Regions from separate parts of the Homo sapiens genome. Here region 1 is linked to region 2. Evidence: fine-mapped expression QTL. A gene starts in region 2. The other region holds a variant in brackets. All regions are shown on one strand. Distances are between the middles of the regions. Region 1 overlaps LY86 (lymphocyte antigen 86). Region 2 holds the start of LY86-AS1 (LY86 antisense RNA 1).

Region 1 (9,789 bases), 33 kb after region 2:
TGTGATCATGTTTTTTAGCTCCCACAGATAATTGAGAATAAACAATATTTGTATTTGTGCCTGGCTTATTTCACTTAAGATAATGACCCCCAGTTCCATCCATGTTGCCACAAATGACAAGATTTTATTCTTTTTTATGGCCATATAGTATTCCATTGTGTATATATACCACATCTTCTTTATCCATTCATCCATACATAGACACTTAGGTTGATTCCATGTCTTTGCTGTAGTGAATAGTGCTGCAATAAGCATGGGGGTGCAATTACAAAAATGTAATCACTTTAAATAGTTTTGTTTACAACCTCATCCTTTCAGTTCTCCAAAACCTGTATTTGGCTGAAGAAAAAGGTCTCTTTCTCCATAAAGAATCTCTAACTTAGTTTCACCTCTGGGTTTGTTTCCTTTCTTTCCCAGCCTCTGTGTTCCTATGTCAGAGTGCCATCTTGCTACCATCTCAGATTCCCACTATCATTGCTCTTGCAGCTGGGAAGTCTCCAGCCCTCTCCCTCTGGAAATCTCTAGTTTCCTCCTCAGGCCTTTCAGTAAAATACAAAAGTTTTGCAAGAAAGAAAAACTACACCTGTCTTCACTTCTAGTATGAGGGCCCTAAACTCTCCCAGAGAGTTCCATTTTTCTTTAAATCTTTGCTATTTGAATTGTTTTTCTTTCCCCATTGTTCTTCTGACCCTCCTCCCAACTAGAGGCTGACTTAAAATTTACTAACAATTGACTTTCACTTTTGCATTGTTGGCTTCTTTTTAAACCAGTTACTCAGCAACTGTTATAAGATAGAGGGGAAAAGAACTTCTTAAAGTCAGAAAACCCCTTTGAAAGTAAGTTGAGAGGCCAGGCACAGTGCCTCATGCCTGTAACCCCAGCACTTTCGGAGGCCGAGGCAGACAGATCACTTGAGGTTGGAAGTTCAAGACCAGCCTGGCTAACATGGTGAAACCCCATCTCTACTAAAAATACAAAAATTAACCAGTCATGGTGGTGCACGCCTGTAATCGCAGCCACTCGGGAGGCTGAGGCATGAGAATCGCTTGACCCCAGGAGGCGGAGGTTGCAGTGAGCCGAGATCACACCACTGCACTCCAGCCTGTGCAACAGAGGAAGACTCCATCTCAAAAAAAAAAAAAAAAAAAAAAAAAAGGAAAAAGGTTGACCAGATAAGTAAAAAGCTTTATTTTAATCACCTACAGTGCATGAAGGAAGTGCAGAACGTAAGTTCTTCAACCGCTGATGGTACTCAAGCAAATATTGCCCAGTGTGAGGGCATCGCATGTACAGCAGAGAGAGCTGGAGGCCTTAATCCCAAAATGGGCTCCCTACACCGGCTGCAGGTCAGCCGTGGCTGGCCCGCAATGCACGGAGGCTTTGCTTTCTTAATATGGAACAGACACAGTTCAAAGACTTTTGGTTGTAAAAGACGTACCCCATATCCCCTCCTCCAGCTAAATCCTCCAGAGATGGGCTCTGGGCTAATGGCAGTTCCCATGTGGCCAAAAACGCTCCCACTCAGCGATCATTCTCCAGGGTCTTGGTATTATTTCCCTCTGAACTCATCCAACCCCTTGGCCCGGATTGAAGCCCTACCTGCTGTCCTCTGTCTATGCCTCCTGCTTTCTGAATGAAAATTTAGGGGATCCTTTGGGCTCCCGAAGCATGTGGACAACAACTTGTAGGCACAGCCTGACCCATGTATTGCCAAAGGTGCACCTACAAATTCCTAACTTACAAACTCTGTGCCCTCCTCAACAGCAGAAACGCTGCACTCAGTCCTTCCCTACCCTGGCCTCCTGGCCTCCCAGCACACACCTCCATCTGCCTCCAGCCTGGCACGCTTGCCTAAATATTCTTATCTCTTATACCAGAGTCTGTGATATCTGTAATTCATAATCTAGAACCCCTTCCTTCAAATACAACAGCTCCTCTTAGGTTCATAATGTAGTAATGAAAAATTCTTGTGTTGTTCAATACATTTGTAGGTGTGTGTCTAAATGCACATAGAGATTTTAAAGAAAAGTACATGAGGAGGAAGAGAACGATGAAACACAACGAGATATAAATTTGAGCCGGTCTTTACTCATAATTAATTCTCTAACATTTGGACTGCTTTGGTTATATTCCTAACACTATTTCTAAAATTACAGCTGCTCAATATTTGAGGAGTGTGACTCATGGGAGCGTCTAGAATCATGGAATCACACCCAAGGCACCATCCAGAGCACAGCCTGGTTCTCTTGAATACAATTTCAGTGTTGGGGACTCCACTCTCTTTGGAAGCTCTGCTCATTGCTAGAAAGTTGCTCCCTTCTAACAAAAGCCACCTTTCATGCAGCTTCTCTCCGGTGGTCTCACCTACTCCTTCCCTCTTGCTTTATACAGATTAAACTCTTTCCTCCTTTGGGTGACAGGCAGTTCAAAGATGTGCCAGCAGTCTCCTGGCCTCCTCTGCCACAGTCCCTCTGCTCCGCTTGCGACCCTCCAACCACCCCAGAGCATTTTCCTCTCCAGATTCGTGTCTACAAACACATCACCGCTCCGTGGCTGCTGGGGTGCAGGACTGGGGTGCTGGCAGCAAACAAAACCAGAATGGCTCTTCTACAGTCCTCATAGGACCTGGCTGCCAGGTGGCTTCTGCCAAGCTGACTGCAAAGGAAGGGAGACCTCCTTACAGTGTTGCTGCCAGCAAGGATCCCCAAAGGCAGCCATTCTTTCTGTGATGGTGCATTTTGGTTTTGTGCTGGTGAACTGTGCTCCCCGGGGTCTTCTCTGTCTGAGCATACAAACCTTTCTCCTTCCAGTTGCTCAGGCCAGGAGCCTTGGAGTCACCTTTAACCCATTTCTTTCTCTCCCACCCACTTGCGTTTCCTCAGCGGATCCTATTGGCTGTTCTTTCAAAATCTCTCTGGCACCCAAAGCCTTCCCCCACCTCCACCTCTACTCCAAGTCATCTTCATCTCTCACCTGGATTCCTGCAATCGCCTCCCATCTGGGCTTTTCAGTGAGGCAGCCAGAGGGATCTTACCGACACAGGCGCCAGGGCAGGCCACCCTCTCCTGACCAGAGTCCCTTTCAGAGTGGAAGCTGATGTCCCCACCATGGCCTTTGAGGCCCTAAGAGTCTGGCCTCCTGTGTTGCCCTTACCTCACCCCCCCCATCCCCCCACTCCCTGCAGCCCCACTGGCCTCCTTCTGCCCCTCTAAGGTGGGGGCCCCAGCCCATAGCAGCACTGCACCTTCTTGCATCTGCTTCAGGTCTTTGCCTAAATGTCGTCGTCTCAGCAGGGCCTCCTTTCACCACCCTGCTCAAAATTGCAGACCAGCACTTGCCTTGACCCATCCAGTGCTTCCATCCACTCCCTTCCTGCATGAGTTTTCTCCATGACATGAGCACCTGACACACCATACATAGTCACATATCATAAGGGTGGTCTGTCTCTCCCAGAGATGCTGTCAGCTCCACAGGGCAGGGGTTGGCTTGTCTTGTTCTACGTTATCCACAATGTCCAGAACAGCACCCAGCACATAAAAGTTTCTCTGTAAATATTTGTTAAATGGTTAATTGTACTGTGGGTCACACGTCTAATACTTGACCTGTGCCCCTTGCAGGGAGAATACCAGGTTTTGCTGGAACTGTACACTGAAAAACGGTCCACCGTGGCCTGTGCCAATGCTACTATCATGTGCTCCTGACTGTGGCCTGTAGCAAAAATCACAGCCAGCTGCATCTCGTGGGACCTCCAAGCTCCTCTGACTGAACCTACTGTGGGAGGAGAAGCAGCTGATGACAGAGAGAGGCTCTACAAAGAAGCGCCCCCAAAGAGTGCAGCTGCTAATTTTAGTCCCAGGACCAGACATCCCCAGACTCCACAGATGTAATGAAGTCCCCGAATGTATCTGTTTCTAAGGAGCCTCTTGGCAGTCCTTAAGCAGTCTTGAGGGTCCATCCTTTTTCTCTAATTGGTCGCCTCCCACCAGACTCACCTGCTTTTCAACTTTTTAGGAGTGCTTCCTCACAGTTACCAAGAATAAAGAAAGCTGGCCACCATTGTTCATTGTGGTTTGTTCAAAGAATCTTACTACAATGCTGTAGTTAAAAAGTCATTTCCTCCAGATACAGTGCCGGATGCTGGTGCAGCATAAGCAGTTCCAAGAAATTCAGGAGGGTGACAGCCTGGCTAAAATTAGAACACTGGGAAAATGTGCCATTGCTTCTCCTGGGCAGGCCCCCACCCTTGGACCATGAGGGCCGAGAAGCTGATGCAACCTCACGAATAGGGACATCATACTCTCGCTTATCCAAACATTCATTTCACCTTCATCCCTCAAAGCATGATTACACTTGACCTCAGCATATGCTGGCGTTCATTACTGCATTCATTAATGAATGCAAGGAATAACTCCTGAACACTTAATGTGTATCAGGTGCTGTGTTCTTAAGTTGTCTTCTACGATGCTCTCCGTAAATGAGCATGTTGCCCATGCTACTTCCAGAGCCATTTCTGCGGCCCCGTCTTCTCTCCTGGGATGCACTGATCGCATGGTGGGCTGCATAGCCCCTTCACCATCCGACGCCCCTGTCCTTCCAGTGTCCCTGCTGGCCCTCTTGCTCCTGCTAAGGGGCTGGAGTAAGGTGGGTGAGTTGACACTATCATTCATAAAAATGCCACTATATTAGAGATTAAAAGAGAAAAAAATTCCATAGTTTAAAAAACAGTAGTTGCT[A/G]TTAATCACTGTTTATACATCAGTAAACCACCTAGAATAGCAGGTCAAAAATGCCTGTCAAACTTTAAAACCAGCATCTGAGGTTTTCTGGGTTATGAGCAGGCAAAATTGCAGCAGCGTCCTTGCCTAGGCCCATAATGCTCGAGGGAAAAGACGTGCGTGGTCATACTAGGCTCAGGAGCAAACCTCTGAACGTACATGGGGGTGACGGTGTTACGCACAAGAATAGCAAATGATTCCTGCCCCTGGCCATTCCCTCTAGCTTGAGACATTCACCTCTCTCCCTTTTCAGTAACCATCACCACAAGTAGTAAAGTCCCTGGCTAGACTCTGTGTACGCACATGTTCTAACAGTACAAGACAGCTGTCACAGCCTTCCAAAGACACAGGTGGAACTCAGCCAGTCCCTTCCCAATCCCTTTGCCCTCTTCTTTAAATTGACTGTGTGGGTGCGTGTGCGTGAGAGAGAGAGGGAGGGAGAGAGAAAGTTTCAGATGCTATAGGTTTGTGTTAAACTGGAATTTCCATATATGGAGACTATCCTAGTCATAGCTGAATATACAAGTACACAGCCGTTTCACTAAGGACATGATTTGAGAGAAAAAAAAATGTTTCTTTGTCCCAGAATATGTCTTTTCTTAGTGTCCTGTCATGGGCCTTAAATTTCACCATTAGTTTTATTCCAGCAAGTTGAAAACATATTTCAATGTTCAGGAGTCTCCTCTTGGAATACGAACAGCCCTGCTAGGAGAAACGCTAGAGTCTGTCATTATTTAACACTCTGGCAGGATGTAGTAACTAAGATGACTTTGAAAGGGCCAGCCCAGGAAGCAGGGTTGTCAGGGGAGGTGGGTGACCCCAAGCCGAGCCCTCTCAGGCTAGCCATTGTGTGGTTACTGGCTGGGGTGGGGTCAAAGTGCCCAGACAATCTATCAAACTAAATTGACTTCTCCTGTAAAGAGAATTGCTACTGTTTCAAAAATCACTATCAACAACTCCAAAAATGTGTCCTCAATAAACTCTTCTGAAGAAAAAAAAAAAAAAAACAGCTTGGTTCAGGATGATGCAGTGCTGCCACAATTAAGGAATTATTATGAAAATCAGCCAGCTTCAGACATTGGAGTGCCCACCAGCCCTTCTTTATATTTTGAGGGCAATTTCCATCGTTACGTATAGAACGTTTTAAAAAATATTTTTGAGGAACATTCCAGTGCCCAAGGGAAGCTTTGTCAGGCTAGAGTCTAGGCAGAATGCTGATAAAGCCCCTCAGGACAGTGTGATCGCATCTCTTAGAACGTTTTGGCTATGAGGAACAGAGAACTCAATTGAATCTGGCTTATGCATAGGGGACTAGGTTGTCTCCCATGACTACTGAGTCCCAGGGTGGTTTAGGTGTCAGCCAGCGTTTGCTGCTGAGGTTCATTCATCATCGGCTCTTCACCTCCATTTCTCCACAGTTCTTCCACCTCGGGTCTCCTGGAATATTGCCTTTACCCTCAGACAGTCTGTCCCACAATAGCAAATCATTTCAGTAGCTGGAGACCTCACATCCACACTGTCCACAGTACAGAAGGCAAAAGAGACCTTTATCCCAAAACCCTGTTACTCATTCTGATTAGAATGGCTTGGGTCACATGACCTCTCCTTGTAACCACAGCAGACCAATCTGGCTCAACTCTTATATGATAAAGTTGTGAGTTGTTTTTCGGTTGCCGTGGACTCCAGGTTGAAGGTTATGTAACCCGAGCATGCCCAGATGAACCAAGTATGCGACCACAGGGGGACCTCAGTGCAAGACTGAGGAGTGGGAACTTAATTAAGAAGTGAACACGGCATGTCAGGATCCAGGATCCAATCATATCAGTTTCCAGCATCACCCCATGACGGGATCCAATCAGATCATGCCTCCCAGCATCACCTCATTGCAAGATCCAATCAGATCATGCCTCCCAGCATCACCTCATTGCAAGATCCAATCAGATCATGCCTCCCAGCATCACCTCATTGCAAGATCCAATCAGATTATGCCTCCCAGCATCACCTCATTGCAAAATCCAATCAGATCATGCCTCATGACCCCATGCTTATAAAACCTGTCCTAAACTCCAACTTGCAGAGACAGGTTGGAGTGTTTCCTCCTGTCTCCTTGCTGGTAGACTTGCAGTAAACCTTTTCTTTTCTTAAAAGCCAGTGCAGTGGGATTGGCCACAATGCACATTAGGCAGTGAGCCCATTGCTGGCTCAGTAACATCCTGACCAATCACTTTGACCCTACCCTGATTGGCTTAGCCTATGTCACATGCCCCACCCCTAGACCTGGATCAGAGTTATTCCCACTGGAACCACACATATCCTTAAGTGGAAACTGGGGAAGTTGCCAAGGGGTAAAGGGAGAGGAAGGGCATGTTTCAAACTAGGCCAAAGGACATGTCCAGATCATGTCTCGAATTAGGCCAGTTTTAAGTTCTAATTCTCTCCTAGCTGTTCACTGGGCAAGTGACTTTTATTGTCTAAGCCCCAGTTTCCTCATCTGTAGGTGCTGACCATAATAATAGTACCTATCTTGTAGAGACAGTGTGAGAATTAATGAGAAAATGCATGTAAAATGCTGAGAATAGGGCCTGGCACGTCACTCAATAAAAATAAGTCATTATTATGTTAAGGTGGGTGTTCACTTGCAGTGCTAAAGCCTCTTTTCCTAATTTACCTCTCCCATCCTCCTACATCATCAGAGCAAACAATCCTAGAAGCCCAGCCCTCACCCATAAGCCCACATTCCCTTCTGGGTCCTGAGATGGTCCCTTGGCATCTTGATTTCTTCTAAGTGTAGCTAGTTTTATTAGACCTGGCATGGGGGCATGTTCCCTGGGCCATGAACTCTGAAAAGAATTTAAGGAAAACATTTGGATACACCTTTCTGGCCCCCAAACAGAAACAATATAACCAGGCCAAAAGGGCCTATGAAAGAAAATGTGGGCCAGGTGTGGTGGTTCACTCCTGTAATCCCAGCACTTTGGGAGGCCGAGGTGGGCGGATCACTTGAGGTCAGGAGTTCGAGACCAGCCTGGCCAACGTGGTAAAACCCCGTCTCTACTAAAAATACAAAAATCAGCCTGGCGTGGTGGCACATGCCTGTAATCCCAGCTACTCAGGGGGCTGAGGCAGGGGAATCACTTGAACCCGGGAGGCAGGCAGAGGTTGCAGTGAGCGGAGATCATGCCATTGCACTCCAGCCTGGGTGACAGAGCAAGACTCTGTCTCAAAAAAAAAAAAAAAAAAGAAAATACGTGTATTTTTTTAATTAAACTTGTTTCCTGCACACAAAGACACACACCCAATGCCTGCATAACTAAATGTGACATCTGCAAATGTAACAATTACGTCTGCCTTCAGGAAAGATAATCCAAAATAGCTAGCACGAGAACAGAAAGGGCCACATCCTGATGACAACCCAGACTCGTTAGAATGGCGGAGTTTATTATCTCAACAGTTCAACTGCAGGTTTGAATTGGCCGTATTTTTCTCAATCAGCAAAACAAGTTAGTCTACCTAATTTTCCAATCATTTTATCAGGCAAGCAGGGGTCCTATAGGGCTTATAAAAGAGTTATTTTCATCTAGTTTGTAAATGTCTTCAGTTACTTAGTGTGGAACGGAAGCCTTCAGCTGCATTCAAATGCTCTGGCCTGAAATATTCTTCTCCCCTTGCGCCCAGCTTTCTTTTCACATGTGACACAAAACCACCTCCTTTCCTCCAGTGGTTTGGTCTCCTCACTTCTGTGGAAAAGGGTATGTATCAATGTTCCTTTAGCCAAAAACAATGATACCTTCTGCCAGCTGGTATTTTTCTGGATTTCCCTGAAACCCACCCAAGGGTGGAAAAACAGAAAATATCCCTGCCACCGAAGACTTTATCATATCATTTCTTTCCTTTTCTTCACTCAGAAGTGGTAGAAGAAAATTCAAGAAAGAGCCAGAGAACATCATTGACATAATCAAGGGGATGCAATAAGGTTTCCACATAAACTACAAAGATTAATATATGTGAGTGCAGAAAGATAACATCTGAGAAGGCAGAACAACCACCATGATAATAATAATTGTGTAAAAGCTAACAACGATTTGTGCAGGCTCTCTGCGCCAGCATTGTGCTCGGCCTGCATCTCAATACTTCATCTCCAGAACAGCCTGTGGGTGCGTAACACAATGGTCCACGTGATAGAAGAGGAAGTCTGGGTTTAGAGAAATTGAGGAACTGGCCTAAGGTTCCCCAGGCTTGTGAGCTCCATCAGTGAGCCAGGATTCAATTCTGTCTCACTCCAAATCCAGGCTCTTTCTACCTAATGTTGCTTGGCTGTTTGGAAAGACACCATATAATAAAGAAACACTTCATGGTTTTAGTTGCAGGCTTGCAGAATGTGTTAACTCAAGCAGCAAATGAGCTAAAAACAAAGGTAGGCTAATGACAGTTACATTAACTCAATGATGACAGCACAGAACAAAAAGGGATCATGAATACTAGTCAGTTTCATGATTTGTTCATGCTCTTCCACAAAAGCTTTTGGTCACTCACTGTCAAACCCACCTGGGTGAATGTGCCATAAGCATAATCTGGCTTTTTCACTGTTTTCTTCTTTCCCTTCGTAAATCTTTAGTCAGCACCTACGGTTTGCTGAGCATTGTATTAAGCACAATACATCAAATATAAAAAATAAATAATATATAGTATAATCCCAATTCAAACTCAGCTTATCTTTTAGGAAAAGGGAAGAAGAAGAGTACCAAAAATCTCCTGTGATGGAGAAACCATGGTAAGCAGCACAAGACAAGAACAAAGCACTGTGGGGGGCTTTGAGGCGGGGAGGACACGTGGCTTGGCTTCACGGTAGAAGGAGGGAACATGCTGGCCCTTGAAGGTTGGCTGGGACACTGGAGGTCCTGGTGCCTACATGTTGTGGACAAGCTCCTGGGGGCGGAGGCAGAGTGGGAGGAATGGCCTGGGGTCCCAGCTCTCTCCCTAGCCCCTTGGTTTTGTGGCAGAGCCTCCTGCAGAGAGA
Region 2 (8,000 bases):
TTATTTTGTTACATTTGGGAAAGAATTCTGAAAGATGCAGAGGAATATCTGCTACTATTTGGCCCGGGACTAGCAGTTCAACCACACTCAGACACTCTGTCTCCAGTGCCAAGTGGTTCTGTTTCTCTAGAGAACCCTAACACACCCCCCCATTATTAAACAACCATCCAGTACTGTTTTATTGAGCAGTCAGAAGCAGACCAGCTTTATTCACATTCTGTTAACCCAATTTTTCCTTCCCTCCATAAACTGTTTGCTAGAGGCAGTCTTGCCAGTGCAGCTAAGCTGCCTGTGGCTGGTAAGGTCTCCTGGGCCCTCTACGCCCTTTCTCCTCCGCAGGTCGTGCCTCTATTGGAAGCATGCTTGTAATACCTAACATCCTCCTGGGGCCAGCCTGTGTTCTGCCAAAAGCACATGCAGGAAGCAATACCAGCTCTTAGAGTAATGTGGGCCACAGGGAATGAGCCATGAATGTTAAGATGTGTTTGAAGAAAAGTCAGTGTTCTTAATCTCAGGATGGTAGCCAGATCTAAGTACTGGTATGAGAAGAAAAAGAGAAACAGAGAGAGAGAAAGGGAGGGAGACAGGGAGAGAGGGAAAGAATGAGAGACAGGAAGAGAGAAGAGGAGAGCTAGGAGAAAGGGAGGGGGAGAAAGACTACCTTTACAAAGCAGGAAGGACATTGCAATCTTGGGGTTGCACTTGGCCATGAGTATGTGGAAGGCTGGTGGAAGTGAGATTGGAGGGGGGTCAGCTCCTTTTCACAGCGACTCTGCTGTAAGAATTCTACCTTCCCCTGAGAGGAGGAAGACCAATTTCTAACCATTTTAAACCCAAGCAATAGAAATGTAAAAAACAGGCACATACATGCGCTTGTACACACACACACACGAATGATTGTTAAACTGGTGACATCTGAATAAACTTTGTGGATTGTATCAGTGTCAATGTCCCAGTTTTGGTATTGTCCTCCATGTAAGATCTTACCATGGGGGATGATGGGGAAAGACATATGAGACCTCTCTGTATCTTTTTGCAACTTCCTGTGAAAATATAATTATTTCAAAATATAAAGCTAAAGAAAAACCTCAAGTAGAGCTAGAATATGGAAAATGGGACTAGCTGTGTAAGAGTTGGGCCCTCCTCTATGCCTCAAACTAACCAGCCAGCAACGCAGAGGCCACAGGGGGCGGAGCTACATCCATGGCCTCCAGGACTTAGGGACATACATCCAAGCTTTCCGGCTGCCTGAAGTCAAATCAAGGATTGGTCCAGTGGAGTGTACCCGGGCCCCCACCATCCTCTGCTGAGGAATTTCACTTCCAGAGTCTGTGTCATTGGATTTTGTCTTCTTCCTACTGATTCCAGTTGAAAGCCCACTGCTAGCTGTTAATAGAAGCCATTCTGACAAGGTTGTCCTCCCCTCGACAGCTGCCCAGGTCTAGCCCAGCCTAGGCCACTAATGGAGGGTGGAAGGCACAACAATACCTTTGGAGCTGATATTTGTTCAAACGCTGCTCACTCTAAACCTGGCTTGTTTATCCAACTCTATTTTACTCCATGAATGTCCAAGAAAACTTTTCTAGAAGAGATTTGATTGTTGCTGCCCTTTGTATGCAAAACAGATGCTGCTGGCTGCTCTCCTAGAGCTCTTCCTCACTTCTGGCAGGGTTCACATGCTGCTGGTTTGGAGAAGCCTGCCTTCGAGGGCCCACATGCCCGGGGGAGAGGGGAGCAGGGGCAGTTTGGGGTGTGCTGGATTCACCCACTATAATGCTGTCCTCCCTTGGGTGGAAGCCATAGAAGTCAACAGGACAGACAGCAAGGGAGTGCCACATAGAGGCCAAGGAAGAAATATTGAAAATGAACAGTCTTCTATTTCGTGATGAAGTTTTGACTTCTTTCCTCAGGTCATTTGCTGAAATACAGTGAAGTATCTGGAGGAAACACTTATCTCTGCCCTTGAATTCCCAGAACGCCAACTCTGATTAACTTTCCGATGTTATTGCTTCAGAAAGTCCAAAGTCAGATGATCCGTCTTACATGTATTAAAAGTTACTGAGGCAAGGGTCCAAGGGAAAGTCTCTCCGCTCTCAGCCTGTCCGTCACTGTTCATACTGTAGAAGGAGAACTACTTTAAAATGCAACCTACCATCTTTTATATTGGTAGGTGATTCTGAGGCATTTGCAGGATAGGTAAAGCCTGGAAATTGATACAGTGATTATTTAAAGCAGTGATCGCCACCAGGGGTGAGTTTATCCCTCATGGATACTTTGGTAAGGTCTAGAGATATTTTTGGTTTCACAACTAGAGGGTATGGGGATGCTACTGGCATCTGGTGGGTAGAGACCAGGGATGCTTCTAGACATCCTATGATGTGCAGAACAGCACCCACCACAAAGGATATCCAAAACAAAATGTCAATAGTGATGACATTGAGGAATCCTGCTTTAAGGTTCTCGGCAAATTTACTACAAATAACCACTACTATTCATCCAGCAAACAATCACTGGAGATTTAGTATGATATTAAGACATTATGTATAGCCCTGGCACTGGGGAGTTAGCTTTGCAGTATCTAGTGGAGGAATGACAGAGGTATACAAACAAATATAATGTAATATAAAACATGCAAAGTGCCTGAGTGGAAATGCAAATAAATACAGAGAAGGATATGAGTTTGAGAGGGTGGGGTTGGGGGAGGAGGAAGAACCAATGTCACTTTCCCCAAGAGGACCACAAACTGCATGTTTACACTCAAAGATATCACTCTTGCATATAAATTTGAAATAACTGCTAGGAAAGCTCACCAAACCCTTAAGCGCTTTTTAAGCAATCTGTCTTTCTGCTTTTATATACATATCCTCAGAGAGATGCAGCCTACAGCTTTCTTTGTGACTTTGTTCTTTATTGAGATTATTTTCCTAACAACAATGTGTTTCTAGTACCAAGAAAATGCTTTATTTCCTTCTCCCGCCCTTAGTTGATTCTTTCTATCTATACCTTTAAAATATTGATAAACATACAGTGTAATTCTATAGCTGCTAATCAACAACACAATACGTACTTAGCCTCTTTTATTTTGCCTGGATAGCAACTTAAATTTATCCACAATTTTGAGGATTCACCTTCCTAAGCATCTGTTCATTGGCTTCTGTCTTTTTCAATACTGAGTGCCAAGGATGTAGCAGGAACTATCGTCTCCAACCCCCTGCTCCTATTTTCCAGGCTGAAAGAAACCCTGGGACAGCACAGAGATACTTAGGAAGGAGTCCAATGAGCATAAGACAAAAGGGCTCTTTCCCACCCTTAGGAAAATTAGTGACTGGACCAAAGGGGTTTTGATCAAACAAAAGTGTACTTACGTTAGATTTGCAAGGCTGAAATTGCCTAGTGATCATTTCCATTGCAGATATCATAGACAATGATGCATCTTCCAGGTCAGCAATGTGGATGATAAAACTGTCTGGAACACTACATTGGCAAATGTGAGCTCATAGCTAAGCTGAAATGGAAATCAGTTATGAAACAGAACTACCAGATGCCATATGCCTGCACACAAAATATTCTGGGCAATCTTACAAATCAAATAAGTAACATATGTAGTTGAGGTTCTACTTTGTGAGTTTCACTGCACAATACCCGGGAGCAATTTGTTTGTTTGTTTGGTTTTAACTCTGGCTTTGAATCTTGACTCTGACACTTTCTAGTGTGGGGATCTAGATAAGTTAATACAACATCTCCGAGTCTATATTTTCGTAACAGTAAAATGAGGTAAATCATACCTATCTCTTCAGATTATTGTTTATTCTGCAGGTCTGGGTGCTGTCAGGAAAACGAAGACCATATCAGTTATTTTAACAGAGAGAATTTGATATAGGAAGTTGGTTAGAGAACCAGTTGCTGGAGAACCAAAAGAGCAAAGAAAGGACCCCTGAAGGCTGGGAGAGCAAAAGGCAGAGGTTGTGGGGATTAGAAACTGGATGCTTGACAGAAGGACCCTGTGGAGCTGAGACACAGGCTGCTAAGGAAAGGGTGACAGCTTCTGATGTGCTGTTACTGCAGTAGCTTAGGGCCCCGCAGAGCTGAGTCTCAGCTGAAGCTGGGAAGGTGCAAGAGAGCTGGAAACTGGAACCAACTGCCACTGCCAACATGATGGGCCATCACCAGTGACACTCCCAGCAAGTACTCACGAAGGAGCAAGTCCCTTCTTCGACTCCAGCCTCCATCTCTCTGCTACCTTGACTGGCAGACAGTGAAGGAGAAACATGATTACCGAGAGCCCAGTGAAAAAGCAGAGGAAAGAGGGCTGGATTTGGAGCTGAGAAACAGCCCCAATATATGGCCCATCCATTCACTCAACATGTACATTTATGGAGTGCTTACTGTGGATCAGACTGTGAGGCTGTGAGGCTCTCTGCTAGGTGTTGGGGAACCTAGAGAATTAAATGGAAAACACTCCTAAAGTACAAGGCTCAGCTATTAGTACAAGGTAAACCCTCTGTTAAAAATAGCTCTCCTATCTCCAGTCCAGTGGGAAACATAAAGGAAAAGGAAATGGAAAGCAAAACAAACAAAACAAAACAAGAAACCAGCTCTGGCCTTTAAGAAATCTCATGTTTAGATTCAGTGTTGCAGGATAAGCCACGTAGCAAAGTGCAGAGTGATACATGTTTGTACACTTTACCAAGAATGCCAGACATCGCTGTTTTAAGAGTTCAAGGAAGCAAGAGAATATATGGGGGCAGGGAAGCCTTCACAAAGAAGATGGGAATGAGCAAGACCTGAGGATTTAGATAATGGCCAAAAAGACTAAGACCATTGCAAATGGGAGAAAGCACACAAGCAAATCAAACATGGTGGGAATGTGCTGGTGTGTATGTTGCCACTCTGGCCTCAAGGAATGAAGGATGGATTTGTGATGTGGAGGATGGAAGTTGGAGCCAGTCGCTCATTTCTGGACTGTATTCTGAGGCATAGATAAGCCATTGGAGCTTTGTGAATGAGCAGAAGTTGTATGCAGAAAATATTATCTTTATAGCCCCTATCATATCTAACACAATACCTTGTACATAGTGGAATATTTGGAGGAGGAAGCATTACATTAAATGGGATGGGATGGGATGGGATGGGATGGGATGGGTTGGGATGGGATGGGATAAAATGGAATTAGAAAGGCAGGTCTTAACTTTGAAAATCTTTTTAGAAAATATTTTGAGCCTAAGTATTAATGTCTACTCAAGCTCTCCTAACTTTTGTATCTCCCTCTGTTTTGATAATAATAATAGATACTTTATTAAATCCGCTATGCAATCCATGAGCAATTTTAAGGCCAAACGTTCAGGAACTAAAAAAATTCAGGCAATGATAAACATTTTCTATGATAAAAACATTAACAAGTAAAGATATAACCCAACTAGCAAGACCCTGTTTATTCCATGGATGGAGGCCCCCTGTTGTCAGAGTGAACATGATGTTGGCTTTGAAGACACGGGGGGGAGCTGATGAAAATATCATGGGCTTATTTTAAAAAGTGTTGGGCAATATGCTTTTGAATAAATGTAGCAATTCATGTGAAAACAATATTGTTGCAAATTTTGAATATGTTTGCAAAATATACGATGTACTCGCAACTAATCTATTGTTTTCTTCTTCGTAGATCCATTACAAGATTTTGGCTTTTCTGTTGAAAAGTGTTCCAAGCAATTAAAATCAAATATCAACATTAGATTTGGAATTATTCTGAGTAAGTAAAAAAAATGATTAGCATGAAATAAAACATTGCACAGCCTCTTCCAACTCCACACACCCAATGACTTATGTTAACTGTAATGACTGGCTAAACTACTGTTCCCTCACCACTCTCTGGAATTAACTCTATTTATATCTTCATTTTCAAATCTTTCTCTGGGTTATATTCAGGTAGGGTAGAACTCTCACTTAAAGCTGTACTTTTGTATTAAAAAGACTCTAGGCACTCATTTGGATGATATAAGCACCTGGAATCAGTATACCCAGCAAAAAAAAAGGAAAATATTTTGAGATTAAGTATTAATGTCTACTCAGGATCTCCTAACTTTTTTAGTTATCTCAGCAACAAATAAATCTACTACCAGCGGTACGGTTTGTCATTTGTGTTATTTTGTATCCCAAATAGTTAATACAAATTCTTAAACTTTGACATCGGCAAGGAGGAGATGTAATATTTTCTCTCCTACCCCAATCAGTAAGCTAGAGCACTTTCTGATTGTTTAATTTTCATATGATCATGCAATTATAGTTGGTCAATATATTTTCTATAGCTACTAGACGACCTCCTTTTCCAAAGCAGTTATATCAAAATCAAAGTAGAGAGGTTTAATAAACTTAGCATGTGGAATCATTCCAGAGAAATGGAGGGAACATTCATAGAAATCAAGAACTCTCACGCATCTTTGTATTTCTAGAATCTTACACAGTATCTGGACTCTAGCAGCAGCTGGAGAAATGTTATGGGGAGAGAAAAAGCGAGAAAAGAGAAATAGAAGAGTGGGTGGAACATAAAAGGGAGGAATGGAGAAAAAGAGAGAATTGGAAGCCACCACCATGGAACCCGCTGCAGCTTCCTGTGCACCTGTGCTGCAATACCTCCCTGGCAACAGCAGCAGGTGTATGTAGGCGTGACCACACCCCACCGCCATCATGGGGAACAAATGATACTATGCAACTGAGAAATTCCAGAAGCCAGACCTGCAGACATCACATTAAAAGGCCATAGCATCAGGGTGGGGAGCTCAGCTGATTAACTACCTTGTTCCAAGCAGGTATTTTGAGAAACAGCCACCTTTCATACGCAGGGCCCCATCATAATCCCCTGTAGCATTGCCTAAATGCTGTTTTACCAAGGAAAGAAGAAAACTGTTCCCCACACAGAGAAGATTAATGGAAACAAAAGGTTCTTTAGCTCATGCTGCTGTATACTGTGAATGCCTCTGATACACAGTGAAACACGCAGTAAGAGTAAAGCTGTTCTTCTCTTTCCTCCAGGAGAGGACATCAAAGAGCTTTTTCTTGACCTAGCTCTCATGTCTCAAGGCTCATCTGTTTTGAATTTCTCCTATCCCATCTGTGAGGCGGCTCTGCCCAAGTTTTCTTTCTGTGGAAGAAGGAAAGGAGGTAAGCCATCTGTCTTGCTCACTGCTGGCAGGGGCCTGCAGAGAGATAAACTCGAACTTGCATCTGAGGCCAGGACGCCCAGACCAGAGCTCTGTCTCTGCCCCTCGCCTTTGGACGAGCTTATCCTCACTTATCAGCATGTGTTGCAGAAAAATAACAATAAGGCCCATTCCATAGGCCTACCTTACAGGGCTGTTGTGAATATCAAAATGAAATGACACGTATGAGATGCTTTAAAACAGAACATTGTTACTGTGAGTAGCAGCATCTTATAAAAAAGGGCTGGCAGCAGAAAGAGCCAAGAGGTTCCAAAAATCCATTGAGGTTCAGAGTGCTCCCAGGTTTTCCCTCCACAACTTCCTTAGTGGCAGGATGTCCTTAATATAGTAATGGACTTCAAAAACGAAAAAAAAAAATGAAGCTTATGATATGTCACCACCTTTCCCACGTGGGTCATTGACTAGCAGGGCATCCGGGAGTTACACTCGAAGTAGAGAAACGGAAACCCCATTATATTAGCTACCTTTTCGGCAGTGCACCAACCCTCTACCGCCTGCCATACAGCCTTGAAGAAAGGGCAGGTCACCTTCCCCCACCTGTCCCCACCTCTCCTTTCCTCCTTGTCTTTACCCACAGCTTCACCAAGGCCCTGAGATGCTTCCGCGGTGTGGTTAAAACCTGGCTCTATTCTCTGACTGTCCTTCCCCAGGAGTGGTTCTCTCCCAGCTGCTCTCCCCTCCCAGGGTCTCCTTCCTACTCCCACTGGCCAAGGCAGGGCATACCCCCAATACACCCCTCACCCCACATCTCAGAAATACTCCTTTATCTATTTTCTCATTCAAGAG

Evidence for each region.
Region 1: its variant is fine-mapped to the expression of LY86-AS1 in whole blood (INTERVAL, PIP above 0.99).

The regions. Positions count from the first base shown.
Region 1 is chr6:6,650,927-6,660,715 of GRCh38, forward strand. LY86 (lymphocyte antigen 86) reads left to right here. Exons shown (of 5, transcript NM_004271.4): 5 at 3,618-4,056. The coding sequence ends at 3,701. Among named protein-coding and RNA genes, the nearest start is that of LY86-AS1, 33 kb to the left of the region's middle. RefSeq lists a silencer at 2,931-3,121. The variant A/G (reference allele first, on the strand shown) is at 4,734.
Region 2 is chr6:6,619,267-6,627,266 of GRCh38, forward strand. It overlaps LY86-AS1 (LY86 antisense RNA 1), which reads right to left and starts at 3,560. Exons shown (of 8, transcript NR_026970.1): 1 at 3,366-3,560. It overlaps LY86 (lymphocyte antigen 86), which reads left to right. Exons shown (of 5, transcript NM_004271.4): 2 at 5,660-5,746; 3 at 7,027-7,155.